4 linked regions of the Homo sapiens genome follow. The protein of the gene in region 2 interacts with the protein of the main gene of each other region in a pairwise test. Each region holds a gene or a part of one and is shown on either strand. Other genes may lie near its edges. The genes, in order: FAM3C, TMPRSS2, CNIH3 and CMTM7.

Evidence for each region.
Region 1: the proteins of TMPRSS2 (region 2) and FAM3C interact in binary tests that used the Homo sapiens proteins (3 or more experiments, as listed by UniProt).
Region 3: the proteins of TMPRSS2 (region 2) and CNIH3 interact in binary tests that used the Homo sapiens proteins (3 or more experiments, as listed by UniProt).
Region 4: the proteins of TMPRSS2 (region 2) and CMTM7 interact in binary tests that used the Homo sapiens proteins (3 or more experiments, as listed by UniProt).

What each region holds. Positions count from the first base shown.
Region 1 is NC_000007.14:121,392,245-121,401,017, reverse strand, and holds the start of FAM3C (protein FAM3C precursor), read left to right. Parts: upstream 1-4,709; 5' UTR 4,710-4,856; exon of another isoform or gene 4,857-4,893; intron 4,894-4,996; exon of another isoform or gene 4,997-5,329; intron 5,330-5,546; exon of another isoform or gene 5,547-6,068; intron 6,069-8,090; exon of another isoform or gene 8,091-8,150; intron 8,151-8,773. UniProt on the Homo sapiens protein: May be involved in retinal laminar formation. Promotes epithelial to mesenchymal transition.
Region 2 is NC_000021.9:41,462,690-41,470,618, forward strand, and holds the end of TMPRSS2 (transmembrane protease serine 2), read right to left. Parts: intron 5,850-7,929; coding exon 5,707-5,849; intron 5,198-5,706; coding exon 5,045-5,197; intron 3,465-5,044; coding exon 3,453-3,464; coding exon of another isoform or gene 3,431-3,452; 3' UTR 1,616-3,430; downstream 1-1,615. UniProt on the Homo sapiens protein: Plasma membrane-anchored serine protease that cleaves at arginine residues. Participates in proteolytic cascades of relevance for the normal physiologic function of the prostate.
Region 3 is NC_000001.11:224,611,855-224,620,312, forward strand, and holds the start of CNIH3 (protein cornichon homolog 3), read left to right. Parts: upstream 1-4,462; 5' UTR 4,463-5,320; coding exon 5,321-5,401; intron 5,402-8,458. UniProt on the Homo sapiens protein: Regulates the trafficking and gating properties of AMPA-selective glutamate receptors (AMPARs).
Region 4 is NC_000003.12:32,449,890-32,456,640, forward strand, and holds the end of CMTM7 (CKLF-like MARVEL transmembrane domain-containing protein 7), read left to right. Parts: intron 1-2,502; coding exon 2,503-2,584; intron 2,585-4,351; coding exon 4,352-4,365; 3' UTR 4,366-5,639; downstream 5,640-6,751.

The sequences.
Region 1 (8,773 bases), on a different chromosome or scaffold from region 2:
TGAACTGTACTATTTTGCCCTTACAGGCAAGGATGAAGTTTAAGGGTTTTAAATTCACATTTTTATAAAAACTCTGAATAATAATTTTCAAATGACACTTAGATGTGGTATTTTAACCTGTATAGGTATAAAATTTGACACGTTTACTTTCAGTTTTATTATTTTACCTCTCTTTTTCTCTCTCTTCTGCTATATTCTTTAGAAGCTAGGCAAGTTTCTGGCCATCTTGCCACAGGTTTGAGTTTATAATCCAATATAAACATGCTTGAATATTTTAAAGTAATCCTACCCCCAGAGTTGGTCAACTCTTTTCCCCCTACAAATGTTTTCTTCCCTGATTCAGTTATTTATTGCTGTGTAACAAACTACCACAATACTTAGTAAATTTTTTTAAGTATGTTATTTCTCAAGTTTCTGTGGGTTTGTTGGTCTAAGCTGGGCAGTTATGCTCCATGTGGTACTGTCTGGAGTTACTCATGTGATATACTCAGGTAGGAGCTTAGCTGGAGCTAGAACATGCAACACGACTTTACTCATATAGCTGGTGCCTTGGGGAAGTGGTTGGGATGGTGTGGATGGAGAGAGAGAGCTAGGCCTCTCTCTGCATGTAGTTTCTCATTATTCAGTAGTTGTCTGAGTTTCCTATATGGTGACTAGATCCTGAAGCTAGTGAAAATGGAAGCTGCAAGGTCTCTTAGGGTCTAAGCCCATAAGTCACATAAGATCTCCTCCATGCATTCTATGGGTCAGAATAAGTCCCGGGGCCAGCCTAGGTTCAAGAGAAGAGGACATAGATTGACCTCTTGATGGTAAAAAACAAAGTGGCATGAACTTACAGGAATGGGGGAATTGTTGGTAGCCATATTTGCCTATAATTTACTACTCCATATACAGAAAAATGATACCAAGTGGACTCTTCTTCTTGAGGGTGGGTGCAATTAAAATTCTGAGGCTTTTTGGAAATTTTGTATTTAACAATATTATCTAATTCTTATATATACATTTTTTATATATTCTTATATAGTTACAGTAATATAAAGCAGGTTATAGTTTTATATAAAATATGGCACCTATTGAGAGAATGAACATTCCTTTCTTTTAATCATGATTTGTGGTTTTGTTTTTAAGCCTTATGATCACATATAATTTTAAAATTTGTGTATATCTCCTCTACTTTAATCATTTTAAGTTGGCAAAAGCACCATTCCCAATCACAAATACACAGCAGTTCTACGATTTTCTGTTTCTGAATGGCTTTTTTTTTTTTTTTTTTGAGACAGAGTCTCACTCTGTGGCCCAGGCTGGAGTGCAGTGGTGCGATCTCAGCTCACTGCAAGCTCTGCCTCCCGGGTTCACGTCATTCTCCTGCCTCAGCCTCCCCAGTAGCTGGGACTACAGGTGCCCGCCACTACGCCCGGCTAATTTTTTGTATTTTTAGTAGAGACGAGTTTCACCGTGTTAGCCAGGATGGTCTCAATCTCCTGACCTCATGATCTACCACGCCCAGCCTCTGAATGGCTGTTTAAAGACAATCCTAAATTATAACTTAGTTTGACTTAGATTGTAAATAATTCAAGAGTGAAGTTTAACTTGCTACTATTTTAAAAGCATATTATCTTACAGATCATCTATAAAATGTGAGAAGTGTTAAATAATCTTTATTTGATATTACACATACACCACACTAAAATGCCTTTCAATAAGTAAAAGGAACTATTTTAAATACAGGGAATTCTAATTAGATTGACATAGTTAAGGCCAAAAATATAAAGTAGACATTGCTACCTTATCTTCAACCCTTGCCTTTAAGAGGCAAATGAACACAAAACACAGGTGAATCTTGCTTGGTTCTGAGATAGTGAAGGAATTTCTCCAGTATTTAAATATATTCACATAACCAGTTATATAAATCCAAATATAAAACCAATCTCCAATATGTTTTAAGATGGCATTCACCATCTTTGTGAAAAGCTGAACATTACTAACAAAGTCTAATCAAATCATGTCTTTAGAAAGGGTAAACAGTGATAGCATTTACTGAATTGGATTACTATTAAAATTCAAAAAAACTGAACATATTCATTTAACTGCAAGCCAGTCTTAGTTTTACATCAGGACTGCCCAACAAAATATTCTGTCAGTTATTCATGATCTGAATTCTGGTGTGTGAGGTCTATTAAATTATGGTACACATAAAAAAGTCATAAGACATTTCTGTTTTGTAATAAATAAGGCAGTGGCCAATTATTATTCATTAGTAGCTTTTTTGAGATAAGCTATCAAGTCTGCTCTTTCTGCCTTCTTCTTAATGCTGGCAAAGATCACTTTGTTCCAGAGATGTGCTTCTTGGGATTCTCCAAATACTCCATCAGTGTATCCTCTCCCCAGGTGATGCCTTTGTTCTTAATGGCATCTGTGTAAAATAATCCAACGGCTTGACCTGTCTTCCATCCGAAGAGACCATGGAGATTAGGCCCAGTCCTGTGCTTGCCTGCCTTTTCCACAGTGTGGCACTGGGCACACTTCTGAATACAAATCTTCTTGCCTTTCTCAACATCATCCATATTTAATCCTCTCTTTTGTTGCTTGTGCTATGAAGGATGACACTCAGAAGCTGGATGTCACACTCTCTGTATATTCTTTTCGAGTCAACAAAAAAGTTGGGCTTTGAAGTTGAGCACGTGAGTTTGAATCTTAGCTCTGTCTGGTCATAGCAGAAGGACCTTGAGCAAGTTTCACTTTTCTCCGCTGTATTTATAGGATTATTGTGAGAATTAAATAAGTCTATATATATAAAGTGCTTAGAAAAGTGCCTGGTGCACAATAAGCACACAATAAATATCAGCTTTAGAAATATACATTATCAGTAGCTATTATTATATAATATAAATTATCGGTAGTTATTGTAATAGCCAACACCTTTGGCTTATACCTCCTGGAGCTGTAAAGCTCTGTGGTTTTATTAAGCTTAATCATTAATCCTGAATACTTCTCCTGGCTCCCCTACCTCCTGCCAAGTAAAAGTAGGAAGTTATCCTTACTCGTTTATAGGTGTAAGAACTGGCTGATTAACAGGAGTCCTAAAGAAGTGATTTACCAATGTTAAAAAAATTGAAACCCATATTAAGAAATATAATTTCTACTGTATCCAGGACATAGACACACAGACACTCACCCACACATGATGCTGTACAAATGTTTCATGAAGAATACTTATCCTGAATTTATGCTTTGAACTGTTTTTTTTTTCTATTTTTCAGTGAATCAACAGCAACAAAATGTTGGTTGTGACCCATTGTTATTAATTTCATTACCTACCAAAGGGTTCTAAGCTATATCTTATGGTCAGTGGAGAATAGGCTACTAACACATTAAACTTTATGCACAGGAATTGTTTCAGGTGTGGTGCTATAAGAATATGTCACATGTAATTTCCAATCTGGTTGGCTCGGTTACAGAGCAGATTGCTCTTTCAGAAATACACCGTGACCTCCCTACTCAAGAGGCTTCATAAACTCTTTCAGTGAGACATAGCAGTCTAGGAGAGGCATGTGTACAGTAAGTGTTATGATTTTTTGGTACTATAATAAGCAAAGTGCCTTTTTGTTTATTTGGAGCTACATGAAGCTAGGCCGGAATTCCAGCTTCATAACTTACTATCTTGTATTTTTGAGCAAGATATTTAAACTCAGTTTTGGAGTCTTAGTTTTTTGATTTAAGTAATACACAAATAGCATAATATTGGCACATGGAAGACAATGAGAATTCATTTCATGCTTTCTCCCCTGATCACGGATCACAAACTCCAGAATTCATAGTTACTATTAGTTTGTGTGTTTTATATTTTTGGAGGAAAGCTAAAATTTGGTAGATTATTAATTCTATATTAACACACTATAGTCAAACCCTATTTTTAAATGCAATTTAATTTCTGCAACCACTGATGATCCCAATATTCTGTCAAATACTAGGTAACAGTTATTCATTATTTTAGAATATGGATCTGAATTATGAAATAATTTTGCATTCTAAGGTCTTATGTAGTAAGATTTGGATTAACTTCCCAATTATCAACACAATTGTAGGAAATCTCCTGAGAAAAAATATTTCTAACGATTGTGTATCTTATAATTTAAAAAATAAACGTGACTTGGAAAATGCAAGGACTACTGTTCTTCTTGGGTGGTGCATTAAAGGTGATCAGAATTCTAATGACGCTGGACAGTAGGATTTTCAGAATCAGTTTCCTAGGGTTCAAGAAGTCAAACGGCAAATAACCCAAGGTCCTTGGTTGATCTGACCATCTCAGCTATCTCAAGATATATAAGATGACCTAACTGGCGCATCTCTAGGATGGGTGGGTCATTTAAAATGTTCTGCCCTTGAGGCTGGGATTTTGTGCGTGTAAACGGTGGGGAGACGGCGGTGACACATTTTTCTCCCTCCCGTAGTGCCACCCGGCGCAGGGCCGCTGCGGCGGCGGCAGCTCCCACGTGGCAAGTTCAGATTGTGCAGCGCCTGGCCGGGGGCGGTGGGCGGGACCGCAGACCCCTCCCTCCGCTCTCCGGCCCTTCCCTCTGGCCGGCCCGGGCGCCCGCTTGGTCCTCCACCGCCAGGGGGCGGGCGCGGCTTCCCGGCGGCGGGGGCCCATTGGTCGCGGCCGGGAAGCGTGGGAGGAGGCCCAGCGGCGAGCTGGCTTTCTCCTGGCCACTTGCCGGGGTGAGGGGCAGCCGGAGGAGTCCGAGAGGAAGCGGAGGCGCGAGCTGGAGGCGGCGGCTCCCGTCGGCCTCCGGCAGGACTGAGCGCTGGGAGGCCGGAAGGCGGGCGCGCGCGGCGGAGAGGCGGGCGGGAGGCCGGTGAGACGGCTGGGAGGCGGACGGAGCCGGGGCTCAGGTTCGGGGAGGGATGGAGGAGGCCGGGGAAGCCAGACGCCCACCTACGACTTCAGCCTCCGCGCACTGCGGTCACCGGCCGGGGGCGGGCCCCGGGCCCGGCCGCGTTGTCACGGCGTGTCCGGACGTTGGAGAGGGCGCAGGCGGGACTGGGGTCCCGGAGAGCCGCTGGCCGGGGTTCCCGGCCGCCGCCCCGGCGTGGGCATCCCCGGGCTCCGCGGAGACGGGGCGGCGTCTGCACCTGGCGCTGGCACTCGGCGCCCCGGCCTGGGGCGGGCACCTGGGTCGCATCTTCCCCAGGTTGGCTGTGGCTCGCGCCCCTGCAGCGTGTAGGCTGAGAGCTCCGAGAGGTGGGGACGGAGTTGGGTGTTGCATTCCAACTCCATAGGGGGCCGTTTTGACTCACTTGTAAAGTTTTAGTGTCGCCTATACTAGAGGTACTTTTGGTTTTTTACAAGCTATCCAGCCCTTTGATGTTTGGTGTCTCTTCTTTTTCTTCCTATTTGTTTGCTACTGCTCTCACAGCTCGGGACCACGGATGATGATTAGTGGCCCTAGATCTGAATATGTGAGTGACGGATTGGCAATTTGAGATTGAGAGCTCCAGCTGTTTTACTTGTGGGAGGAGCGGTTTCCATCATCCTCTACCTTTTTTTTTTTTAAGAAAAAATATTATTGCCTGTAATATAGAACTGCTATCTAATTGATAGGACTTTTCCTTTGTTTCTTTTTGGCCAACATGGTGAAACCTCGTCTCTACTAAAAAATAAAAAAATTAGCCAGGTGTATGTATCCATATATATATATGTATGTATGTATCCATATATATGTATGTATCCATATATATGTATGTATCCATATATATGTATGTATCCATATATATGTATGTATGTATCCATATATATGTATGTATCCGTATATATGTATGTATCCATGTATCCATATATATGTATGTATCCATATATATATGGATACAATGACATAAATAATATTAGATTGCTTACTGTGTACTAGGCACTGCCAAATGGTTTCGTGTGCTCATTTATTCTCACAACAGCTCAGTGAATAAGTCCCTTTATCTTTTCTAGTTTTACAGATGGAAATATGAACTCCCGAGAGTAAAGGTCAATGCTGATAGCAGAGGCCCCGACCCCTTGGACTTGTGGCCAATTTGCAGTTACGTTTTCTTAAGTCTTGGGAACCGTTACTATTAGTCATACAGTATCTTACAGAGTACCAGCAGATCTCTATTGAATTTAGAAAATAAAAGTTAATCACTTACTGAAAGCCATTTAACAAGAAATTGGCAGAATCAGCAAATCAGCATCCGGTTTTGGTCACTTCATCGACCTGTACCTCTTTCTAGAGGCTACTAGTAGTCTCTTGTGTTTCTTGGCTGTTTACCAATAAAGTCACAAGGTTTTCAGTTTTATACAGGTATTAGAAGCTTTGTTTCACAGATTCTTGTAATGTTTTCTCAACTCAATAAAGACTAGCATTTCTTCATAGGAAGAAATAAGAAGAGTTGGAGCCAATAAAAGGAGTTCAGTCCAGCAGTTCTCAACCTGAGGACCTCTCTGAATTACCAATGGGAACTTTGTAAGAGGGACACAGGACAGGTTCCTCAAAATCCTCATTGTAAGGGGCTTCTGTTTCAAAAGGGAGTAAAAATAAGACACTACTGGCTTAAAGTGACTTTAAAAATAAACTTAATGGATGTTTTATTACAATTACAGATTTTTAATGTGGATTGCTGCCTTAAGCATTGTCAACTAATCTTTCATAATTTATGAAGATACATTAAAAAGGAAAAGGAAATTGGAAAAGACAGCCAAAAGGCTAAGAGGCTATGGAATGGCAAAAAGTAATGTTCCCTGAGGGGGTATCAGAAGACTCATATATTTTCCACCATATATTTTAGGTTTTGAACGATTCATTTTTCAAAAATTTTTATACTCTTAAAAATACTGGAGTGCCTACCATGTACCAGTAATTGTAGATATCATGGATACTATGAATAAGACAGCCTGGGCACTCACAAAGCTACTTTATTTTCTCTAAAGCAGGGAATCTTTTTTATTTTTATTTTTATGCCCATTTCTTAAAGCTGAAAGGTGCAAGACCCAAATAGCAAAAGATTTTTATGTTAGCGCTGAGCTAGATAGATTTTTGTGCGACCTTGGTATAATAGCAAAAGTTTGTCTTGAATTTAGTCCAGAAGCGTCTCTGTTCTTGGGATCAGATGATCAGGATTTGAAGCATTGATTCTGTATTTAGTTATTTCAAGAGTGGCATTGACTAAATTACTTAATATCATGCAGTCCTTTTTAATCTGATTGAGTAGACTGAACCAGGTAATTTCCCAAAATCTTTGAACTTTTAAAAGGTTTTGTACTTTCTTTTAATGCAATTCTTTGAGACACAATCGGCTGACTTCCTCTCAGAGGAGGAAATTAAGTGTTGTAATACCCCTAAGTCTTTCCAGTGTACCCATTAATATTCTTTTTCTTCTTCATTGGCCTGCTCCATTTGATTGAAGCTATTCTTATATTTCCCTTATTTTTAATCTAATTTTGAAAATCCGCTATTCATGATTTTTCTAACTTCAGTGAGTTTTTTCTTCCAATTTTCTTTTTTAAATTAAATTCCTGTAACAGAATTTTTCATTTTATTTTTAAATTATTTACAAAGACAGGGTACCCCACTGTTCTGCAGACTGGAGTGCAGTGGTGTGATCATAACTCACTGTAGCCTTGAACTCCACCTTAGCCTGTGGAGTAGCTAGGTTTACAGGCATGTGCCACCACACACGACTAATTTTATAATTTTTTTTCTTAAAAGACGGGATCTTACTATTTTGCACAGGCTGGCCAAATCTGCCCTCAGGTGATCCTTCGACCTCAGCCTCCCAAAGCTCTGGGATTACAGACATGAGCCCCTATGCCTAGCCAGATTTTCCATTTTAAAGTGTGGCATTTAGCACGTTCATGATGTTATGAACCGTCACGTTTCTAAAACATTTTCATCACCCCAAAAGGAAACCCCATATTCATTAAGCAGTTGTTCATTCCCTTCTCCCTGCCAATCCTCGGCAACCACTGATCTGCTTTCTGCCCCCATAAATTTATCTATTCTGGATTTTCCTAAAAATTGAATAATTCAATATGTGTTCTTTTGTGTCTGGCTTCTTTCACTTAGCATGTTTTAGAGGTTCGTCCTCTAAATCAGCAGGTATCAGTACTTCATTCCTTTTTAAGGGTGAGTAATATTCCATTCTATATTCCATTCATATACACCACATTACATATATATCATTTCGTTGATACGTACTGCATTTTGTTTATTCATTTGTTAAATTTTTGTGTGCTATTCAGAAAGTTATATGAACATCTCTAAATTGATTTTCGTCATAATCTCTACAAGGCTTGCTAAGGTAGTGTTATGGTGTCAGGTGTGCTACCTAACATATCATTCATTACTTGCAGTTAAGTGATTGTTAAATGAGTTTTGAAAGACGCAAGGTCAACAAAAATGGATTTTTAAGTTGGTTCAGTTGATACGTGGTGTGGTTTGGTTCTGCGTCCCCACTCAAATCTCATCTCAAATTGTAATCCCTGTGTGTCGAGGGAGGGAAGTGATTGCATCATGAGGGCGGCTTCCCCCATGTTGTTCTCGTGACAGTGAGTTCTTACAAGATCTGATGGTTTTACAAATGGAAGTTTTTCCTGCACTCTCTCTCTTCTCTCTCCTGCTGCCTTGTGAAAAAGGTGTCTGTTTCCCCTTAGCCTTCCTCCATGATTGTAAGTTTCCTGACACCTCCCCAGCCATGTGGGACTGTGAGTCAGTTAAACTTCTTTCCTTTATAGGTTACCCAGTCTTGG
Region 2 (7,929 bases):
GTTATGTTTTAGCAAAGAGACTGGTGGCATTTTGCTCCTGCCTTAGAGATTTGTGGAACTTTGAACTTGAGAGAGATGATTTAGGGTATTTGGTGTAAGAAATTTCTAAGCAGCAAATCATTCAAGTAGAGACTTGGGTGCTGTTAAAGGCATTCAGTTTCAAAAGGGAAACAGCATAAAAGTTTGGAAAAGTTGCAGCCTGACAATGCAATAGAAAAGAAAATCCCATTTTCTGAGTAGAAATTCAAGTCAGCTGCAGAAATTTGCATAAGTAATGAGGAGCTGAATGTTAATCCCCAAGACAATGGAGAAAGTGTCTCCAGGGCATGTCAGAGGTTTTCACAGAAGCCCCTCCCATAACAGGCCCAGAGGCCTAGGAAGAAAAAGTGGTTTCATGGGCCAGGCCCAGGGTCCTTGTGCTGTATGCAGCCTAGAGACTTGATGCCCTGCATCCTAGCCACTCCAGCCATGGCTGAAAGGGGCCAAAATAGAGCTTGGGCTGTGGCTTCAGAGGTTGCAAGCCTTAAGCCTTGGCAGCTTCCATGTGATGTTGAGCCTGCCAGTGCACAGAAGTCAAGGATTGAGATTTGGGAACTTCTGCCTAGATTTCAGAAGATGTATGGAAACGCATAGATGCCCAGGCAGAAGTTTGCTGCAGGGTGGGGCCCTTATGGAGAACCTCTGCTAGGGCAGTGCAGAAGGGAAATGTGGGGTTGGAGCCCCTACACAGTCCCTACTGGGGCACTGCCTAGTGGAGCTGTGAGAAGAGGGCCACCATTCTCCAGACCCCAGAATGGTAGATCCACCAACAGCTTGCACCATGTGCCTGGAAAAGCTGCAGACCCTCAACACCAGCCCATGATGCAGCCAGGAAGGAAGCTATACCTTGCGAAGTCACAGAGGTGGAGCTGCCCCAGACCATGGGAACCCACCTCTTGCATCAGTGTGACCTGGATATGACAGATGGAGTCAAAGGAGGTCATTTTGGTGCTTTAAGATTTGACTGCCCTGCTGGATTTTGGACTTTTAAGGGGCCTGCAGCCCCTTTATTTTGGCCAATTTCTCCCATTTGGAATGGCTGTATTCACCCAATGCCTGTACCCCCGTTGTATCTAGGAAGTAATTAACTTGCTCTTGATTTCACAGGCTCATAGGTGGAAGCAACTTGCCTTGTGTTGGATGAGACTTTGGACTGTAGACTTTTGACTTAATGCTGAAATGAGTTAAGATTTTGGGGGACTGTTGGGAAGACCTGATTGGTTTTGAAATGTAAAGATACGAGATTTGGGGGGTGCAGGGGCAGAATGATATGGTTTGGCTCTGTGTCCCCACCCAAATCTCATCTTGTAGCTCCCATAATTCCCATGTGTTGTGGGAGGGACCTGATAGGAGATAATTGAATCATGGGGGTGGGTCTTTCCTGTGCTGTTTTTGTGATAGTGAATGGGTCTCACAAGATCTGATGGTTTAAAAAATGGGAGTTTCTGTGCACAAACTCTCTCCCTGCCTGCTGCCATCCATGTAAGATGTGATTTGCTCTTCCTTGCTTTCTGCCATGATTGTGAGGCCTCCCCAGCCATGTGGAATTGTAAATCCAATAAACTTCTTTCTTTTGTAAATTGCAGTCTTGGGTATGTCTTTATTAGGAGCATGGAAACAGACTAATAGAATAATAAGAAGGAGTCATTTGAGGGACCTCTCCAACAGGACAGGCTGCAGGAACTGAGGGCACCAACCACAGGAGCACCAAGTCTGGCCTTGCCTCACCTTTGGTCCTCTGACCAGCAGCCTCAACATCACCCCCTTATAAGGAAATGGAGGCTGGTCCTACTCACCAGGCAGAACTTCAAAGATGCAGTAGTTACTTTGAAAAAAAAATTGCATAATTTATTTGCATGATATTCATTTTCACAATTGAACTTTACAGTTTAAAAAAGATACAAAAAAAGACAAACAGTTGTTCACATAAATAAGAAGGGGCAATAAAGAAGGAAGACGTTTTCACCATTACAACACCTTTTAGGATGTGTCTTGGGGAGCAAGCACCTTACAGTGCCAACTGTTTCCAAGGTCCCTGGGAATGCTGCTCTCTACAGAGGCATGTGCACAGACAGATCCTGCAAATGGGATTGCATGACTTTCCATTTCAAGGTTAAGTCCTAGCTGTAGAATCATTCATTTCATTCTTGCAAACCAGCCTGCTTGGCCAGGAGGCAGAACCATGGTAGAGTAGTGCTCATGGTTATGGCACTTGGCAATGCAAAAGGGACCCTTCCCCTGGTTGGAAACCCACAGCATTGGAAGGGACCACAGAGAGTCCAAAACAAAACACATCTTTCTCTTCTTCGCCGCCACCATGGGCACTTTGCTTCAGCACATTCATTTATAGAACGTTAAGTCAGGAGCCAGTCATTTTGTCAAAGCAGCTGAAATAGGCCACCACTCTTACTTGGCAAAGATGATACAGTTTCAAAGAGTTAAATGAAGGTGGACTACTTGGAGACATCAAAAGCTAAGTTTCCAGGAGCACTGAGGTAGCAATGTGTAGAAACATAACATGGAAACAGTGTACCTTAAACTGAGCATCCTTGATTTCCCCCATGGACCTCAATTTCCAGTGACTAGCAGGCCTGAAGAGGCCAACATGGTGCCAGACTTGGCGCCCTGCCAGGACCAAGGGGCATGTGCACTCTCCAGGGTGCTAGGAGCAGGGTCAGGGAGGATGAGGAGGAAGGCTGAGTCTCCCTCCCAGGAGCCCCACCCAATGTGCAGGTGGAGACCTGCACCAGGAGTGCTCAGGGCAAGTTCCTTTTCAATTGCTTCCCTCGCACCAAGGGCACTGTCTATATTCTCACCCCATAAGAACAAAAATGTTTCTGTTCCCCTTACAAGTGACTACCACGTCACCACCCATGAAGGGCTGGTCCCTTTATTTCTGGCCACCATCCAGGGCTGCTAAGGCTCTAAGAACCCATCAGCAAAATCCCCTTGTGGAGAGGTAGGCTGGGGACACTACCAAGTGGCCCCAGAGGGCAGCCGCTGCAGGTGCCACCTGGCTGTCTCCCTTTCCATGTCTCTCCTTTTTCATCTCAAGTCATCCAGCAGCTGAGAGGTGACAGCTCCATGCTCATCCAAAATTGGCCCCTGGAAAGGACTCAGCAGGAAGATCTCAATGGGGCAGCCTCCACCCCTCTCCTCCACACTTGACCGCCAGTGCCCACAACCAGCCGGCCATCACCCCTTGCGGACAAGGGGTTAGGGAGAGCAGGCTGGGCAGGGGAGCCACTGCAGCCTGCACAGAATGGCAGAGAGTGCCAAAGCCAGACAAGTTCACTGTTTAATAAAAATGAAGTGACCTCTGAATCATCTCTAAGAGTAAATCATGCACGGGGAAGCAAAACCAGCCCCATTGTTTTCTTGTAAAACGACGTCAAGGACGAAGACCATGTGGATTAGCCGTCTGCCTGTTCAAATAGGAAAAAAAAAAGTGTGTTATTTTCTTAAGACAAACAAAGGTGGAAAATAATTTTTTCCTCTAGGTTCGCATGAAGCACTTAGAAACCAAATAAGCAAGCTTAATAGCACAAAGGGATCATTCTTCTCTCCAACGTGTTGGTCAGAGTCAGGCTGAGCATGGCGGGGCAGGAGCTCCGGAAGGAGCGGGCAGCGGATGTGGAGGCCGGCACAACAGGCATCTCTTCAGCAGAGTCTGGGCCTCCCCCGGCTGCTCTCCTGCCACGCAGCCCTTCCCTCCCTGCACAGCCATGCGGACCCACCTGCAGCCGCCAAACACACCTGGATCATTTCCTAGCTCCATCCTGGTGCGAGTCCGCCCCTCAGCCTGGCTGACCATCCCAGCCCTGCCAGCTTCCCTCCTGCCCTGCCTCCTCCTCCTGGGGTCATCTGTTTCTAGCACTGGGCCCTGGGCCAGGTGACGCCCCCTGGGCCCCATGGTCATGGGAAGGCCCTGAGTCCCGCGTGTCATTTGAAGGAGACACAGGTCGGGCCTCAGCGGGAAAGGCCCCCTGGTTCTGCTCCTCCTTCAACAGACTGGGCATCTGGGAGATTTGGGAGAAGACAGAATAGACTGCTTTCTTCCACTAGTAGCCCAGCCCCAGAAAGCACAGAAATCTGAGAAAACTATACGTCTGAGGTCCTGGAGATGAGAAGATCTGGTTCTCACCCCCTATCTGGACAATGCCCAAAGCCAGGGCTCTGCTAAGCAGAGACATCCATGAGGCTCACATGGAACCCCTGAGACCTTCCCTCGTGCTTGAGTCTGGGGCATCAGAGAACCCTGGCTGCTCCTGCCCTTCCTAACCTTGGGGGCTGCCCAGGAGCCACTCGATGGCCCCAGAAAAGGATGGGCACAGCCGGCTCTTCCCTCTGCTCTCTATAAATCAAAAGTTTCATGTGAGGCCGGGCACCGTGGTTCACACTTGTAATCCCAGCACTGTGGGAGGCTGAGGTGGGTGAATCACCTGAGGTCAGGGCTTCGAGACCAGCCTGGCCAACATGGAGAAACCCCATCTCTACTAAAAATACAAAAAGTAGCTGGGCGTGGTGGCGCATGCCTGTAGTCCCAGCTACTTGGGAGGCTGAGGCAGGAGAATCACTTGAACCCAGGAGGCAAAGGTTGCAGTGAGTCGAGATTGTGCCACTGCACTCCAGCCTGGGCGACACAGTGAGACTCCATCTCAAAAAAAAAAAAAAAAAGTTTGATGTGAGGTGGCCTGGGTGGAACAGCTGAGTCAGCTGAGCCAGAACGAAGTGTGGTTGGCAGAGCACCAAGGAATTTCACACAAGCTGAGCCCCAGCGCTTTTCATCCAAACACCAGGGGAAATATGCAAGTGAAGCCAGTGAGAGGCAATGGGCAATGGGTGGACACTGGGGGGATGGGGCTGTGGCTGGAGGAAGCAGAGTTTGCTTCATGCTGACCAGTGGTCACCAGTCAGCTTCCAGCAGCAGAACCACGCCTAACAGATGTCTGGCTTTGGCTCGAGGAATCGGAGAACACAGTCAGAAGGAGGACAGGATAGTTACCCTCATTTGTCGATAAATCCAGTCCGTGAATACCATCACATTCCCGTACACTCCTGGTCTGTAAGCTTTGGCACAGCCAGAACCCCAGCTTGTATCCCCTATCAGCCACCAGATATTGTTCTTCGAAGTGACCAGAGGCCCTCCACTGTCACCCTGTGGGACACAGCAAGGTACAGAGAGCAGAAAATCAAGTCACAATCTGCCGCACACCACTGACCAGGCCTAGAGGAGTTGGGGGGCGGGGGTCGCAGTGTGAGTTACGAGTGACTGTGTGGGCTTCGAATCTCCACCATCAAGGGGTGATGGTAACAGAGATGTAACCCCCAAAGAGATAGCCCCCATCCTGAATTTTAATCTGTTCAAGCTAAAAGTTACTAAATAAATTGCCGTTCATAATTTAAAATAGTCTAAATACTTGTTTCTGTTCCACTGGCACTTTTACCAAATACCGGTTTTTCAGAGGGTGTGTGTGATTTGTTGACTGTACTTCCTTCTGCCACCAGAAGCGTTCGCACTGTTTGTGGCCGTCACTTCCCATGACTGCCCCGAGCTGGCTCCGTGTCACTGAGGAGGCTCTGCTGACCCCAAGAATGCCCTCTCTCTCATGGGGGGTTCAGTAGGATCTGGTAAGGACCAAAGGTAGAATAAAAATGTTGAATTACCTGGCAAGAATCGACGTTCCCCTGCAGGAAGCCGGCACAGATCATGGCTGGTGTGATCAGGTTGTCATAGACATATCTGCTGTTGCATCTCTGTGTCTCAATGAGAAGCACCTTGGCAGCGTTCAGCACTTCTGAGGTCTTCCCTAAGGACAGGGAGACTTGTTGAGCTCCCAGTGTTGCCTGCAGCTCTCGCAGGGAGAGCACACTTCCCTCCCTGAGACCTCCACACGCACTACACAGATGGTCACAGCCCTATTTTCCAGCCCTGCCCCGGTCAGCTCATCCCAGCACCAACCCCTCTCCTGGGAAACCTGGATTCTCCTTACAACTGGCGGTGCCTGTGCTGAATGCAGCTCTGGAGTTCAGCTTCAGGGAAAGAAATTCCCAGCTCTGAAACTATAGGGCTCTATCAGTGCCATGGAATCCCCCTCTTATTCACCCAACGGCTTGGTTCTGCTGAACCAATTTCCCACTCCTCACTGAACCCCACCCAGGACACACAGGCGCCTGTTTCCCCTCTGGCATGCACACACTCTTCTGGAGCACACGTGACCCTCCCTAGGCCGCCTGCTTCTCGGCTCCCCTGCACATTAGAGCTTCTCAAGACACGGCCTGCACTTGCCACCTCTGCATTTCCCACTCTCGCTTTGCTGCCTCCCCTCGGGCATCTTCTGGGCACCGTGGGCTTAGTGTGCAAAACCAGAACCCTCCGTCACACCTTCTCCCACCCCAAATTCTCACCAACCAATATTTCCTGGCTTGAAAAATGGCACCACCCGCCACCCTGGGGCTTCAGCCACAGAGTGGAAAGCCATCGTCCCTGACTTCTCACTCTCTCTCCCACAGACATGCAACCCATCAGTAAGTCTGGTGGCTCTAGCCCTAGTGTACCCTCATCTCTTCACATCCACGCCCGCACTCTGCTATGAGCTGGCTTCCTGTCTCAAGGAACCACAGCAATGGACTTGTCACCATCATCCTCGTCTCCATCCATTCATCCCCACTCCCCACGCAGCTGCCAGATCATGGCACTCCCCGGCTCACGATCTCCCCACCTCAAGCAGATGAGAAGCTGGTGTCTTCACCATAATCCACAAGGACCTATGCAATCTGGCCCCAGCCCACCTCCTTGGCCCCTTGACCACACCTGAAGATACATGCACTAGCCTTTTTGATGTGTACACATTTTTGCCATTTGAGTCTCAGCTCAAATGCCACCTCTTCCGAGAAGCCTTTCCTGACCACCCCTTCAAAATAGCCGGGACCTTGTGATCCCCACCCTCAGATGTTTGGAAGTACCTCGCTCAGTTGTTTGTCTCCCATCTGTCTGACCACACCTGCCCCGTCCCCACCACCGACATCCAGAAGAGAGGTAAAGCTCCTGACAGCAGAGACATTTGTCTTACTCTGTTCACTTCTGCATTCCCAGCACCTGAGTAGCACCCAGCCTGTACTAGGTGCAGGTGCGCACAAATATTTGTCGATATTCCCTTCATCTTGGATTCCATGAGGTCTTTTGCCCAGCCTGTGGCTCTACTGTAGTAAGTTTCTGCTGATGAGGAGCCAGGATGCCCCCCACTACCTTCCCTGACGCTCCCCAGAAATCACCCAACCTTTGTACTTTTCCCCTTGTTTGAAAGGATTTGTTGTCTGTATGGCCTAGACGCTTTTGAGAAGGATATAAACAATATGTAAAATGAACCTTTGTGCCTGCCACTAAGCACTTCCAACCCTCCATAAAAATGAAGCAGCCAGGCTCCCTTCATTTGAAAGACTGTCAGAGAGAAATGCAGATTGCAAAGGAAGTGGGTGGAGAGAGCCTCTCTCTGTGGTTATCAGGGCAGAGGACAGGCTTAGATGTGGCCACCATGGGTCCAGGATGCCCGTCCTCACCAAGCCCCCTGTCACTCAGCCACGCAGGCCTTGGTGGGATCTCCAGGGCAGCTCTAAACTCACAATGAGTGCAACACAGGAGATCCTGCACCTCTAAACTCGTATGGCCCAGATACTTCAAAAGCCATTCCACATGCTGCTCTGTGTGATCACGATAAGAACACAGTGTATTAGGTAGGCTGGGCAGGATTTCTCCCACTTAGCAGATGGAGAAACTGAGGCACAAGGACTGGGGGAATCAACCAAAGTCATCCAGTCATTGAGTAGTAGAACTGGGATTAAAACCTGGACCTCCCACTTCCGAACCCAATGCTCCATCTGTGGGCCCTG
Region 3 (8,458 bases), on a different chromosome or scaffold from region 2:
TAGAAACCTTGTGGATCCCTGACAGCGCCCAGAACTATGGACACTAAAATATTTTGAAATAACGAGCAGTAACTGCCTGGGGTTCTTATTTTCTGAAGTTTTGCAGTAACCTTTGCCGAGATATTGTTCTGTAACTAATAAAACAAGGCAAAGCAGGACCAGGTAAATGGCAAGAAAAACAGTGGCTGGATGGAGACTTGAAAGTCACAGTGGTAGGATAATGGATTCCATTTTTAAATTTGAAATTTTATTTTGATGTAGAGACTCTTGGTTCTGGTGATGCTGTGCTAGTGAATTCAGACCGGTTCTCCCACTGAGCACAACTTATAAAGCTGAATGAAATACAGTAACATCTTCTTGAAAGCATCAAAGACCTAATAAGAGAGTACGGAATTACTGGGGTCAAAAGCTGAGAGTGATTCAGAATCTAGAGGGGTTGGTTTAGCTCTTGGGGCCAGTTTTTTTTTCTAGGGGCATTTCTTAATCTTGAGGAGGTGGCTGAGGTATGCTTTTAGGGGCATTTCTTAATCTTGAGGAGGAGACTGAGCTATGCCTTTAGTACTCTGTGGCGCTAGGGGCAAAAGTCAGAGTCCAAGGACCATCAAGGGTTGGGACTTGATAAGCCCTGTGTTTTGACTTGGGATCCAGAAGGACAGCTCCATGTGAGTAAGGCTGAACCAGAAATAAAGCAGCCCTCACACAGACCACAGTTATCTTGGTCATCCTGGAAAATCTCAAATGCTGAATTTGGATTAAGGTAATCCTGGAGCACTAGGTTCCCCTAGATACCTGGCAAAAGAAGTTGAAAATCCTCCCTGGAGAAAGATAACATAATTTTAGGCCTCAAATGACTGTAAGAAAACTTTTCAAAACAAGTTTGGCACAGTAAAAATCTACTAGATGGATAAGAAGCGAGGACTCCGTAAACAAGAACCAGCAGAAACAAAAGATCAGAGAGGTCCCAAAGGGACTCAGAATTTTGGTGTCACGAAATTTTATACAGTACAATTACTACAATGAAAAGAAATGATCTATATAAAATAAAAAGCAAAAAAACAGCTAGAAAGAAATACACCAGGATTGTGTTGGTGGTATCTGAGAGCAGCAAACTGTGGTGTTTATCTTTTTCATTTTTATATTTTCCAAATTATTTTATATTTTTGAGACAGGCTCTCGCTTTGTCACCCGAGGTGGGGTGCAGTGGCATGATCACAGCTCACTGTGCCTTGACCTCTTGGGCTCAAGCAATCCTCTGGCCTCAGCCTCCTGAGTAGCTGAGACTACAGGTGTGCACCACCATGCCTGGCTAATTTTATTTTCATTTTTGTAGAGACCGGGTCTTAATTATGTTGCCCAAGATGATCGCGAACTCCTGACCTCAAGTGATCCACCCGCCTCAGCCTCCCAAAGTGCTGAGATTACAGGCATGAGCCACAGTGCCTGACCTCCAAATTTTCTTTAATGACAATTTATACTGGAAGAAATACTTCTGTAAAAGAGAAAGCAACATAGGGTATAACCCAGAGCAGGGCTAGATTTGTAGGCATTCAACTTCTACAGCTGTCCAGGGTCTTGTGCTCAGAAGGGCCTCATGCTTGGCTTAATGTTCTGCTGTTGCTGTCTTGAAATTATTAATTTTTAATCAAGAAGCTTGATATAGTTTGGGTTATTTGTCCCTGCCCAAATCTCATGTTGAAATGTCATCCCCAGTGTTGGAGGTGGGGCCTGGTGGGAGGTGTCTGGGTCATGGGGGTGGATCCCTCATGGCTTGGTGCTGTCCTCGCAATAAAGAGAGTGTTCTCACAAGATCTGGTTATTTACACGTGTGTGGCACTTCTCCACAACACTCTCTTGCTCTTGCTTTTGCCATGTGACATGCCTGCTCCTGCTTCACCTTCTACCATGAATAAAAGCAACCCTGAGGCCTCCCCCGAAGCCGAGCAAATGCTGGTGCCGTGCTTGTACAGCCTGCAGAACGGTGAGCCAATTGAACCTGTTTTCTTTATAAAGTACCCAGCCTCAGGTTTTTGTTTTTTTTTTTTGAGACAGGGTCTGGCTCTATTGCCTAGGCTGGAGTGCAGTGGTATGAACACAGCTCACTGCACCCTTGACCTCCTGGGCTCAAGCAACACTCTCACCTTAGCCCTGCAAGAAGCTGGGACTACAGGTGCATGCCACCACACCCGGCTAATTTTTGTATTTTTTGTAGAGATGGGGTTTCTGCCATGTTGTCCAGGCTGGTCTCAAATACCTAAGCTCAGGTGATCTGCCCACCTCGACCTCCCCAAGTACTGGGATTACAGGCATAAACCACCATGCCTGGCCAGGTATTTCTTTATAGCAATGCAAGAACGGCCTAATACAAAGTCCCACATTTTCATTTTGCACTTGGCCCTCCAAAGTATGTAGCCGGTCCTGACCCAGAGGCAATAAAATGTAGATCGGTTCATTGCTCTGGTCATCAGCCTCTGGATTTGCTCTAATTTCTCCACTTCTCACTGAAAGGCATCTAGTTTCTAAACTGGAGGGAGATATGAGGCCAGGCACTGTGGTGCACACCTATAATCCCAGCGCTTTGGGAGGCCAAGGCTGGAAGACTGCTTGAGGCCAGGAGTTTGGGACCAGCCTGGCCATATATTGAGACCTATGTCTGCAAACAAAACAAAACAAAAATTATCTGGGTGTGGTGGTGCATGCCTGTAGTCCTAGCAAGGAGTTTGAGGCTACAGTGAGCTATGATAGCACCACTGCACTCCAGCCTGGGCAACACAGCAAGACTGTCTTCAAAAAAATAAAATAAAATAAATTGAAGGGCCTGGAGCGGTGGCTCACGCCTGTAATCCCAGCACTTTGGGAGGCCGAGGTGGGTAGATCACGAGGTCAAGAGATCGAGACCATCTTGGCCAACATGGTGAAACCCCGTCTTTACTAAAAATACAAAGATTAGCTGGGCGTGGTGGTGCGTGCCTGTAGTCCCAGCTACTCGGGAGGCTAAGGCAGGAGAATCGCTTGAACCAGGGAGGTGGAGGTTGCAGAGATCACGCCACTGCACTCCAGCCTGGCGACAAAGTGAGACTCCGTCAAATAAATAAATAAATAAATAAATAAATAAATAAATAAATAAGTAAAAGATGTGGCCAAATAGCTGCAGGAATGTTGGGGCATAGTAGAAAGAGCCCAGGATTAGGAGTCCGCAGACAGGATTCCAGTTCTGTCACTAGAAAGCTGTATCTCTATCTTGCTGGAATTCATCCCTTCCAGCTCTCAAGGCATTGGAATCACATCTGTGAACAGGAAAACTAGCACACCAGAGTCAGAATCAAGCAATAGTTATTTATCTAGTTCCCACCCTGTGCAAGGTACCAGGTGCTCTAAGATTCACTCCAATCCATGAAGTGCGTCTACTCTTTCACCGAGATTTGCCAGTCGTCTTTCAGGGTATTTTTCCTTGCTTTCTGGATTTGATGACTTGTCTGAAACTGAAGTTCTCTCTGGAATGACTGGACCTCTTTCACTGCAGCGTCAGGAATCTCTTGCAAAGCAAGCATGGTGAACTTCCAAGATGCTGGGCCACTGGGGGAAAGGGTGCAATTAATAATCCCTACCACTTATTGAACGTATACCAAGTGCTAGGTTTTTTACTTATGTTCCCTTTTAATCCTTTGAAATGGCTTGACTCTACTCTTATTTATGTTTTTCTGATAAGGAAACTAAGGATTAAAGAGGTTAGGTAACTTGCAGCTAGAAAACGGTCTACCTTCAAAAGCATCCTCTTGACAATTCCACTAGGACCAACACCAATACCACCGAGCCCTCGTTGCTGCCTCTTCAGCGCAGAATAGCCCACCAAGTCCACGTTTCCCTAGTCCCAAGGTCGGATGGCTGGGGAGGGTAGAGGATGCAACGGAAGGACGTTAATGGAGAATTTTGCAGGGTCTGGGAGCAGAGCAGTAAACGCAGCCCTAAGCACTGAGTATGCTACAGTTTGGTAAAATCCATCCAAGCAGCTTTGGGATCCAAGGCTTGCACTGTATCCCCAACCAACACTAGGCAACGCCCCAAGTCCCCACACTTCCCACTCCGATAGGCGAAACTGCAAGAACCGGGAGGGGCGGCTGCGGCGTTTAGGCGCGAGGCACACACCATACCCTTCCGCAGCTTCCCACCTCCTCCAGACGCACGTGTTTAAAGAGTCCCTGCTCCAACCGGTCCCGCCCCACCTCCGCTCGGCCTCCAGCCCTGCTTGTACTGCTGGCTTCAAGTTTCCTCCGAGAGGCGGGCGTGCACAGCTGCAGTGGCGGCGGCAGCGGCCACCAAGCGCCCGGCGGCGCTTCGCCACCCACCTTTCCTCAGCCCCCGGCGCTGCAGTCTCCGCCCGCCGGGGAGGGCGCGCTCAGCGGAACAGGAGTCGAGGGTGGGGCGCCGAGAGGAGGGAATCCCGGGTCGCACCGCTACAGTTCTCGCAGTGGCAAAGGCGGCGGCGGCGGCGGCGGCAGCGGCAGCAGCAGGTGGAGCGAGCTACAGCGTTTGGCCTGAAACCCACTGCTGCAGCCACCCGGGCTGGAGTTGGCCCGTTGGGTGGAGCCAGTGCTCGCCCCGGTCCGACCCCCGGTTTCCGGGACACTTGGGTTGCGGAGGCCGGCTGGCCGGAGTCACGGTTGGGGACGGGCGCGCCTCGGAGCGCACGGCTGCGCTGGAAGCCGCGTCTGGGGCGCAGGACCAACGGGACCTACCTCCTCCCGGCTACCTAAAGACTCCTTCTCTCGGGAAAGAGCGCTGCCCGGCTCTGGGATTTGGGAGGAGCTCGGAGGCCGCTCGGGCACCTCGCTGGACACTATCCGTTTGCGCCCCGGTGGCGCGGGAGGGTCCGGAGCGGAGCGCTCGTCTCTCCTCAGCGGTTTAGTGGAGAAAAGCAGAGAGCTCTTCCTGGGGCGAATGGGACCTCCTCCCTCGGTCCTCCGTGGAGTCGTCGCATCGCTTGTCGTGTTGGTCTCGAGGGGCTCACAGCTTGGCACTAATTTGCAGGTGTTCGCTGCTGATTTGGTTTCTTCTTCGATTTGCGGACGGTTCCCTCCAGCGACTCTCGACACACGTTTTCCTGTCTTCGCCGGAGGGCCGGGTCTGGGGTCGCCGGAGCCTGCGGGAATCCAGCGCTTATTCGCTGACCCTCGAGTCGCTTCGCTAGCTGTGCGCCCTCCTGGGCACTAGCCTGGAGAGGAGCGTGCAGACGCGGCTCCTTGGAGGGAGTGCGGTCCTCTAGGGAGGCATCGGGCTCCTAGGGGCTTCTTGGCGTGTGTGGTGGGATTGGGGTCCGCCGGCCATGGCCTTCACTTTCGCTGCGTTCTGCTACATGCTGTCTCTGGTGCTGTGCGCTGCGCTCATCTTCTTCGCCATCTGGCACGTGAGTAACACGCTTTGGTCTCTCTTCTTTCGCCCCAATTTCGCTAAATTTCCCCGATTTCACCCCACTTTTTCCACCTTGCGGGCGTGGGCGAACCGGAAGGTTGGACCTTCTGCCGCTCCACTGTCCCGGGGCAGGAGGCAGTTCGCTGCATCCCGCCGGGCGCGCCTTCGGTGCCCTGGCTGGAGGCGAGGGGCCGCTGGTGCCCAGGTAGGACACCCTCTGCAGGGCCCGACTGGGCGTCCCGGGTCCCGGGCGCCGGGGAGTGGCGGCTACAACCACAACTAACCCCTTCCTCTCCCGCCCCGTCCTCTCCTGCCGGCGGGAGGCGAAGGAGAAGCGCCGCCGTCGGTCCCGGCAATTAGTCAAGTAGCTATAATAACTAAACATTTAAAATGTCAGCATCTGTGGTGGGTTGCATTTAGATATAATTGGAGACAAAGTGGAAACACGACGGGAGCGCCTTGTAAGAGGTAGGGAGAAGCCGAGCCCACGGAGAGGAAGGAGACCAGGCGATGGGGGTCGAAGTGGAAGGCGGTGGGGGAAAGGCGAGAAGGAGAAGAGCAAGGAGGCGAGGGAGACTGGGAAGGGCAGGCATCATTAAGGCCATGGAGGAAAGTCACGAAGAGAGACCGTGGAGAGCGACGACGGTGTCCTCCATCTGCCCTCTTGGCGTCTGAAGTCCGACTCCTGAAGACCCCCTGCAGGTGGCGAACCTCCGCTAGGCCCCCAGCGTCCCCAGCCCACACAAGCTTCCTGTCACCCTTCCCGGGGCTACGCCAGGTGGAGGGCAGCCGTGGATCCCAGTTCTTTAGGTGTGGGTGGGAATAGAGGAGCGCAAGCTTCTGAATAGGGGAAGAGAAGTACTGAGAGAGCGCGCAGGAGTGCGTACGCCGGTCCTCTCAAAGACTGTGCAACATTTAGCGAGTGCATGCAACTCTCAAGGCTTCCTTCTCTGAGGTTGTTTAAGCCCCCTATCCTCACCCTCAGAGGGCTGGTGGGAAGAATGGCCAAGGCCAAATGTTTAGAAGGAGCACCCCAGTGCATAATTTCCCACCTTTAACAGCCTTGCCCTGCCCAGCGTCTAGGTGACAGAGAAGGACCCTGAGACGAATTCTTGGAGGCATGGTTCTGGTGAGCATCACAGACTCTCATACAGTGGGGATGACCCAAAATGAAGACGTGGAGAAAATTGCAGGGTGGGTGAGATGCCCTTGTTTTCTATAAGTGGTTTGCAGAGTGAGAGTTTGTCTTAAAATAGAACTAAGCAGCTAGAGCAGCTCCTGCTACAGGGCTCTGACAGAGAGGAGAGGGGAAACTCGGGGAGGAAGGTGGCTTCCGATCATGTAACCTTAGGAAAGACCCTTGCTGGCTTCCTTCCACATCTCTAAAGTGAGAAAATTGACCTGGATAGTCGCTAAGCTTTCCCCCATTTCTCAGATTGTGTAAATCCGTGCATCAGTAGACTTAGGAATCTGGGGGTGACAGGGAATCCAAACATAGATATTTGGGGGATGATTAAAACAATTCCGCTATTTAGAAGTAATGGGATTTTAAACCCTCCCTTCTCTGCTCTGCAAGGCTGGGTCTAATCTATAGTAGAAAATTGAGGCTTGAAGTTGTTGACAGTTCTTAAGGGAAAAGGAAACTTACCTGATTTAGAATAGAAAGGAATACAGATTAGATCATGCCCAAGCAGTGCAGCAAACCTCTGCTAATGTGCTTTAAAGGAACTTTCTCAGCTTCTTTGGATATGGGGAGTTACTTGGATTCTAGAAGGCCAACTACTCCCTTTTCTTCTGCAATACTTCATTTGCTGTTTTCTGTTTTTGCCTTGGCCAGAGGGTGTCAGGTACCAGAGAGCTCCCTCAAACTCGAGTCTGGCTTGGAGTTCTCTGAATTGGTCCCTGAAGCAGAGCAAGTAACCAGAAAGAATCATTTTCTCTCATTCAGGGAAAGATGATTAATAATTCAAGAACAGCTTCATTGAGTGGTTTGTGCAGCTGGTTGACATTTGAATGAAAATCAGGTGTTCCCTCATCCAGCACTGGCTCTATCCTCCAGCTTCTCAATGCTCACCCCCTTATCGAGGGGTGGCTGAAATGCAGTCAAATTCCAACTCAGGTTTTATCCAGATTCCTCGTGGAAGTGGCAAGATTCTTGTTTCTAATAATGAAAAGAATTTGTGCGTTTTGATTTCAAATTACGGTAATAATTTCATAGTCTCAGTCCCTCCTTTCCTAGTCTTTTCCTTCTCTATCCCTTTCCCTCTCTCCAAATCAAACAACCCAAACCCCATCACACTGATTTGGTTCCTGAACATTGAACTGGGAAACCAGAGACACCCTGATTTCAGGGCACGGTTTGTATGTCTGGGTGTTAGTTACATGGTAGTAATTATTTCAACCAAAATTGAGGAGACTTGGTTTTATGTTAGACTGTTTGCCTTCTTTCCAGCTTCTTATATTACTTATGTACTTCTTGATCGGACAAGGCATATTGATTGTGTGATATATATCAGTACCCCAAAAAATGAATTGGGCGCTTAACAACATATAGCGGTTAAAATGCCTGCCATGCTGCCATGCCTAGGCTGTAAGATATGAAGATGGCGTGCTTTTCTTATTGAATTGTACGTACCTACTTAGGGGTAATGATGGTAGCTACTATGTATTGGGTGTCTGCTGTAGGACAAGTTTTAAGTACTTTACAGAGGATCTCTCAGTCCAATCGTTTTCCTCCCCTTTTTTCCCACTGGATGTCTGGGAGCAAGGATGGATGTGGCCAGCCTTTCTTTCAAGTCTTGTTTTTTACTTTGAAAATTTATCTGCATTTGTTTTCAGTTGAAAATATTTCAAGTTACCCATTTATTTTATATCAGCTACTATCTCTGAGTACATTTATCACATTTGGAAGAAGCAGAAGAAAACTAGGTTTTTTCTGTGGCTTTGCATACCCTCAGGCACCTGGCCTCTTACTGCCCAGGCAGCCCTTTAGTCCTCATAACGGACATTTCGCAGATGAGGAAACTGGATCAGAGAGATTACAAGGTTGCCT
Region 4 (6,751 bases), on a different chromosome or scaffold from region 2:
GATGCTGGAGCCTCTTTTGGGCCCAGTGGGAAATGTACTGTGATCAATTAGAGATACATGCCATGAGCCTGAGCTTTGCCATTCCTGATTTTTAACAGTATTCAGGCCAGGAAATAATACTCCTGTATCTTTCAGAGGCAAAAATTGATCCATCTGATAGCCATAAATAGAAGTAGATGGAAATATACAAAAATACAGTCCTGTGAGATATATACATACATATATATGTATATACATACAGATGTATATGCTATTTTTTTAAAGATTCATAGATTCCTGTCATCTGATTTCTGATTTAGCTAACTATTTATAGTTCAGTGGCCTGTGGGCCAACACTGATTTGCTTCACTGATGAGCAGACAAGATTTTAAAAATGAGTTTTGAGAAAAGCTCTCTCAAGCCAGATGTGGTAGCTAGCATGCACCTGTAGTCCCAGGCACTCGGCAGGAATGCTTGTGCCCAGGAGTTCGGTCTGGCCTGGGCAACGTACTGAGACCCTGTGTCTTAAAAAAAGAAAAAGAGAAAAAGAAAAGCTCTCTCTGTATGTGACATTCATTGTCTTTCACTTACGTATATTACCAAAATTTTCCAGACTTTGGCCTGGGAGTGGGTTGGCTCCTGGAATTCCACTGAGGGATGGAGTCTCTCCTCTGAAGGTCAGCATGGGGGCAGAAGGTCACTGTAGAGGGTGGCCAAACCTCCCAACACTGATGCTCCACATGGCCCTCCCACAGCCCACCATCACACCTCTCTGCCCCCTCTCTCTGCTGTCTCTGAAGAGAGGGATGGTTGCCCCCTGAAGCTTAACACCTGCCCAGCTACAGTGCAGGGTACTGGAAGAGGCACACAGGAGACCTGTGCCCACTGTGTTTCCGGGCCCACTTGAGGAGATTCCCACTGTGTTTAGTAATTCAGGTTGCACATAACTGTTTAGCCCTGGAATCTCTATAGCTAACATTCATCATATGCTGTCTGTGTGCCTAGGACCAAACCTGGGCTATGAGGAAGTTAGAAGAAATTTTTAAAATATGGTCCCTGCTTATAAGAAAGTGGTCATCTAGCTTAGGAGACAAGACACATGAAACAATTAGTAAACAAGGCGTTGTAGTCTAGAATAGCATTCTGTAGCGATATAATAAACTGTTCAATTATGCAGTGCAGACAGTTGGGGACCGGGATGGTATATAACGTGCTAATTGTGCAGAACAGACAATGAGAGGCCGGGACAGGCTCTAATAGGCTAATTATGTGCTGTAGACAATTGGTACAAAAGGAGCCCAGGAAAAGAAACCCGGGGAAGAAGTGGATGTGGGCTGGTGGGGGCAGCTGTTTATGTAAAGCAGCATCTGGGCTTGAAAAGAAAACCAAACCTTGTTGAAAATCCTACCCTTAGCTGCCCCTGCGCCATTCTCACTGGACACCAGTGGCGGTGTAGTGAAGTGGAGGCCTTTGTGTGGGTCTGAGAACACCTAGGCACCCGGTACTGCAGAGTGCGGACTCTGGAGCCAGGCTCCCTGGGCTCCCATCCCATATCTGGCCCTTGCTGGCTCTGTGGCCTTCGGCAAAACAGATGACCGCCTGTACCTCTGTTTCTTTAGCTGTGAAATGGAGGAGCAGGGTGGGTAATCCTAGCACCCACCCAGCAGAGTTGTGAGGGTTAAAGGAATCAATACACCCACAGGGCCTCACACCCTGGTAGGGATGTAGTAAAGTGGTCAGTAAGTTTTCACCACTGCAGCTGCCGGTGTTGTTCACAAGCAAGGAAAATGGCTGCAGGCTTCAAAGCCCAGAGATTCCAGAAGAAGCTACTGCCTCTTCCTCGACCATTTGATGAGCCTCCCACAGGCACTCTTCGTCTCCCAGCACCCGAATCTCATCTACAAGTGAGGGGGCTGGGCTAGGTCAGCCTTCCTCACACTTGAGCGCTGGATGACCCTGAGAAAGGGAAAGGGTGCTGCCTTGACTTAGTTGAGTCTAATATTGTTTAATATGTACAAACGTAAACCTAGATGTAAAGGCCTCGGCTTCTGGCTCTAATACGGCTATGAAGCCAGAATGGAACAGAAAGTCATTACAAATGAAATGCGAACAACGCCACTACACCACAAATCATGGGAACGTTCAGATTTTTTTAACCCAAATTAAAATTTCATCCTTTTCTTCTCTTTTGGTCCAGGATAATCAAAGTCCATTGGCTTAGCCCCAGCTTGCTTGTAAATGTAAACCCAGACCAGGCACTGAAGCTGCCAAGAGTGAAGACCGAGAGGCCTGGCTGCCAGCCCTGACCTGGCCCAACCTGGAGGACTGGGGCCAGTGGCTGGGCCTCGCGGGGCTTCCTCTCTGCACCTGATCCAGGATGAGGTGGTTGGGTTAGATGACTCTCCAAGCTCCTTTCTGGCCAGAGACATGAAGGGAACAAGCACAGAGATGAGAAGCAGACAGGATTGCCCGAGTAATTAGCCCTATGGCCTGTGAACTTCCTCTCCCCTCTCTCCACTGCAGATCTTTGGTTTCATGGCCACCTTCCTCTGCATGGCAAGCATATGGCTGTCCTATAAGATCTCGTGTGTAACCCAGTCCACAGGTGAGTTCTGGTTATCTGTGCACAGAGGATCTCTCAGGAACAGGGGGATGGCTTGTTCTTGACTTCAGCCATAGGGACAAACCCTGCTGTTGAGAAGGCTGTGTTCCAAGGGGACTTTAGAAGTAGTATTAGAGCACAGGGGCCAGCAAAGGGGAAGATGTGACCCCAGAATCTCCCCTCACATTCCCATCTCCACACATCCAAGGATGCCCTAACATTTCAGCCTCGGGTGGCCAAGCTTTTTTCTCTTTCTTGCTTCCTTTCTTTCTTTTTCTTTACTTTTCTTTTTTTTTTTTTGAGATTGGGTTTTGCCCTGTTGTCCAGGCTGGTGCAGTGGTACGATCAGAGCTCACTGCAGCCTCCGCCTCCCAGGCTCAAGTGATCCTCCAACCTCAGCCTCCTGAGTACCTGGGACTACAGGTGTGCACCACCATGCCTAATTTCAATTTTTTTTTTTTTTTTTTTTTTTTTTTTTTTTTTAGAGTTGGAGTCTCACCATGTTGCCCAGGCTGGTCTCAAACTCCTGGGCTCAAGCAGTCCTCCCACCTCAGCCTCTGAAAGTGCTGGGATTATAGACATGAACCACCGCACCCAGCCAGCTTTTTCTTAAGTTTCCTAATGACAAAAATAAAATGTAGGTTTTTAGAAAATACAGATAAAAAATATGTTTAATAGAAACCGTCTGAACCAGGGACAGTGGTGTGTACCCATAGTACCAGCTACTCAGGTGGCTGAGGCAAGAGGATCACCTGAGCCCAGGAGTTTGAGACCAATCTGAGCAACATAGTCAGACTCCGTCTCTTAAAAAATAAAATAAAATAAGAAAAAGCCATCTGTCATCACACTACCCAGAAGTAGCACTGAGTATCCTTTCGATATTTTCTCTCTGAAAATATATATATCTGTTGCTTTTATTAAAAGGATCAAACTTCATGTGCTGTTTCATAATATGTTTTTTCTCCTACTTAGCCACTGACCAAACATTTTCCCAACATCATTAGGAATTCTTAGCAACTCCGTGGGTTGCAGCATTAAGTCCATCGCATGACTGTGCAGTTTATTTAACTTGCCTCCTCTTTGAGGGCATTACTCATGGAATCCTACACTGAGCCCATGTAGTGTAGGATTCCACTAATAAGAATCGTCTAGAGCAGGCAGATTCATAGAGACACAAGGTAGACCCATGGCGGCCTGGGGCTGCTGGGAGAGGACTCAGGTGTGACTGCTAATGAGGATGAGGCTTCTTTTTGAGGTGATGAAAAGGCTCTAAAATTGTGGTTGCACAGTCCTGTGAATATACTGAAAAACACTTTAGATGGGAGAATTGTATGGTATGTGAATTATTAAAATATCCCAGTAAAGCTGTTTAAGAAAAAAAAGAATGATTTTTAAACGTAGAGAATATAGGGGAAAAGAGAAGTTAATAGGTGGTGTCTAACAGGATAAATCTATAAATATTGGTATAAATTGGTTTTTTGAATTATGGAAGAATCACCAAAAGAAATGGCTAAAAGGCTTGGGAGGTTGCTGCTGAGGAGTAAGACTGAGGTCGGGGGAGTGCGGATGGGAGTCACCTCTGCACTACCGAAGTTTTTTCCTTGTTTGGAAATGTATTTTTAAAAAATGGAATAATCTCAGTGCAAGTCGGCACTGGGTGGAGGACACAGGTGCCCCCCTGAGCAGAACTTGGAGTCAAACCTGTGGAGTGTGGCTTGTGGGTGGGCCACATCCCTGGCAAGCTGTCCTGACTGCCATTTCCTTCCCAAGATGCAGCCGTCTGATGAGGCCACAACCCCTAGGCCCCTCAGGAGCTTTGCAGAGAGGAGGACGTGTACTCCAGGCGAGGCCTCTGGACCTGTGTTCCTGTGCCAAAGTCCTGTCAGGCTGGTGGGCACCAGGAAAGGCCTGCACCCTCTTCCTGCTCTCCCAGGAAGCCAGCTCCCTGAGCTCCTGAGCCAGCCGGAAACTCTTCCTCCAGCCTTCCGGGGAGAACATCCCTCCCATTCTGGGAAAGGAAAGCAGCCTCCAGGGAAATGTTTTCTGCCTTCCTGCTTCTAGAACCACCTCAGGTACTGATGAACCCCACTTAGCACAGCTGAAGGGGTTTGTGAATACTCCCGCCTAAATCCCTTCTACTTCACTCCTCAGGGGAGTGAAGTGCCTTAAGAAACAAAGCCCTGTCCTAATTTATCTAGCTTGTCAGTCCGGTCTTAGAGATACCCTCTTTCCTGAAGTGAGGCGTGCCTGTAGAAACACTATGTGGTCAGCCTGTCCCCAAGGAGATCTTGTGTCTCCTCTCCATCTCTGCCTTTGTTACCAGTGTGCATGTGTTTGTGTGTTTTTTAATAAAATATTGACTCGGCCAGTTGCACAAGGATTTCTTATTGAACCAGATGAAGGCTGTAAAACCTGGCCTGAAACAGTTTCCATTCGAGCTTGTGTCTGGCCCATGGCCCTCCACCCGTGCTCTGTGTGTGCCCCTTGCTGAACTGCTGGACTTCAGGTTTTCTCTCCATCTTGGGGGATAGTATAGCAGGGCAGAGTTTTAGGTAAACATGTGCAGGTTCTCAATTATATTCACGTCCTCCTTCTCCTGCAATACCAATCTTCTCATTTTGGAAAGAGCTTTAGAGCAAGCTAAGGGTTGTGTTTACACTATGATGATTAATGATCTCGGCCTAAATGTGCTGTTTCGCTGATCTTGAGCTGCTCAGTTGGCTAGAAAAAGGAGGGATGGAACAATGTTTGAGCAACCCCGTGTGCAAGGACCTACATTCACAACCACATCTAATAGCGATGGTAGTGACTGCAAGGGGGCAGGTTATAGGACCACATTTTTAGAAATGAAATCGGGGCTCCATCCCCAGGCACAGGGCAAGCCAGTGAGGAGCTGGGCTCAGGATCTAGGTCTGCCTGACTCCCAGCCCCATCCTTGCCTCTGCTGAGTGTTGCCGGAAATGGAAGCAGCCCCTGTGGGCTTTGAGCTGGAGCTCTGGGGCTACTCTTGTGGCTGCTGGCCAGCTCGGGGCATCGGGTTCTGTCTGGGATGATCTAAGGAAGCAGCACCCGTGGTGTATCTGGAGCCGAGTGCTGCTGATGGGAGGGGATCCTGTGTACCAGCTGGGCTGGAGCGGGAACATGGCTGAGCTGACCCTGGCACAGTCGGCTCCTCCAGGGCAATGGAATGGAGGAGTCTCAGCTGAGGAGGGCACGGTCCAGGTGAGGCATTGGGTCTGGGAGCCCCCTGCCTGTGTAGTGACAATGCAGGCCTCGCCAAGCAACGAGGATCCGGGTTTGACCATTTGAGCATCCCCCTAGGAGGGCAAAGGTGGGTGGAGGACAGTTGGAGGAATAGTAGCAGGAGCCAGAGTCTGCTCAGTGAGGAAGGAAAGCAAAACGCAGAGCCAAGTGAGGCCTCCACAGACAGCGAGCAGTGGACCATGCAGCCAGTGGCTTGGCTGAGGGGTGGCTGTTTGAGACCACAGGGCCTTTTTAGAAACTGGGGTTTCTGTGACCTCCCAAAAACTGTCTGGTAAAACCATCCCTTCTAAATGGCCACATCTCCAGCACCAGGGAGTAAATGTTTAAGCAAAGAGCTAAGGATGGTGGAAAGACAGTCAGGCTGGGAGCCGCAGACGTGGGGTTGAGCCCAGCTCTGCCATTGACTAGCCCCCGACTTGGCACGGGTCATCTTGCTGAACCTTAGTTCCCCCTTTGTATAACGGAGAGAATAAGCCCATCCTGGCCTGTCTGTGACCTCCTTGGAATTCAGTAACAGAGCAGCGTGCTTACTTATCGTTATCTTTCTAATCTTAATCCCCAGAGAGGTACCAGAATGACAGGAAATGAGCAGGTTAATGTTGCAAAAGTGATCGAATCACCTGGGTGCAAGGGAGCTGGAGAACATAATTTACTTTCAGTTTCCTGGACCTTAAATTTTGTTAAAGTCAAGATTGGAAGCTGAGGGCAGTTTTCAGCCGGGCGCTGGGACCCATGGTGGACAGAGGGCATGATGAAACACCTGTAGGGAACTGGGTGGGTGAACGCATCCCCAGCAGCCGGCTCTGAGCTGAGTCGTGGGGGTCCTCCCTGCCAGAGGCCCACTAACCTCGTCTAACCTGGTGAAGGGGACACTGGCTTTTCACTTTTGAAGTATGACAATGACCT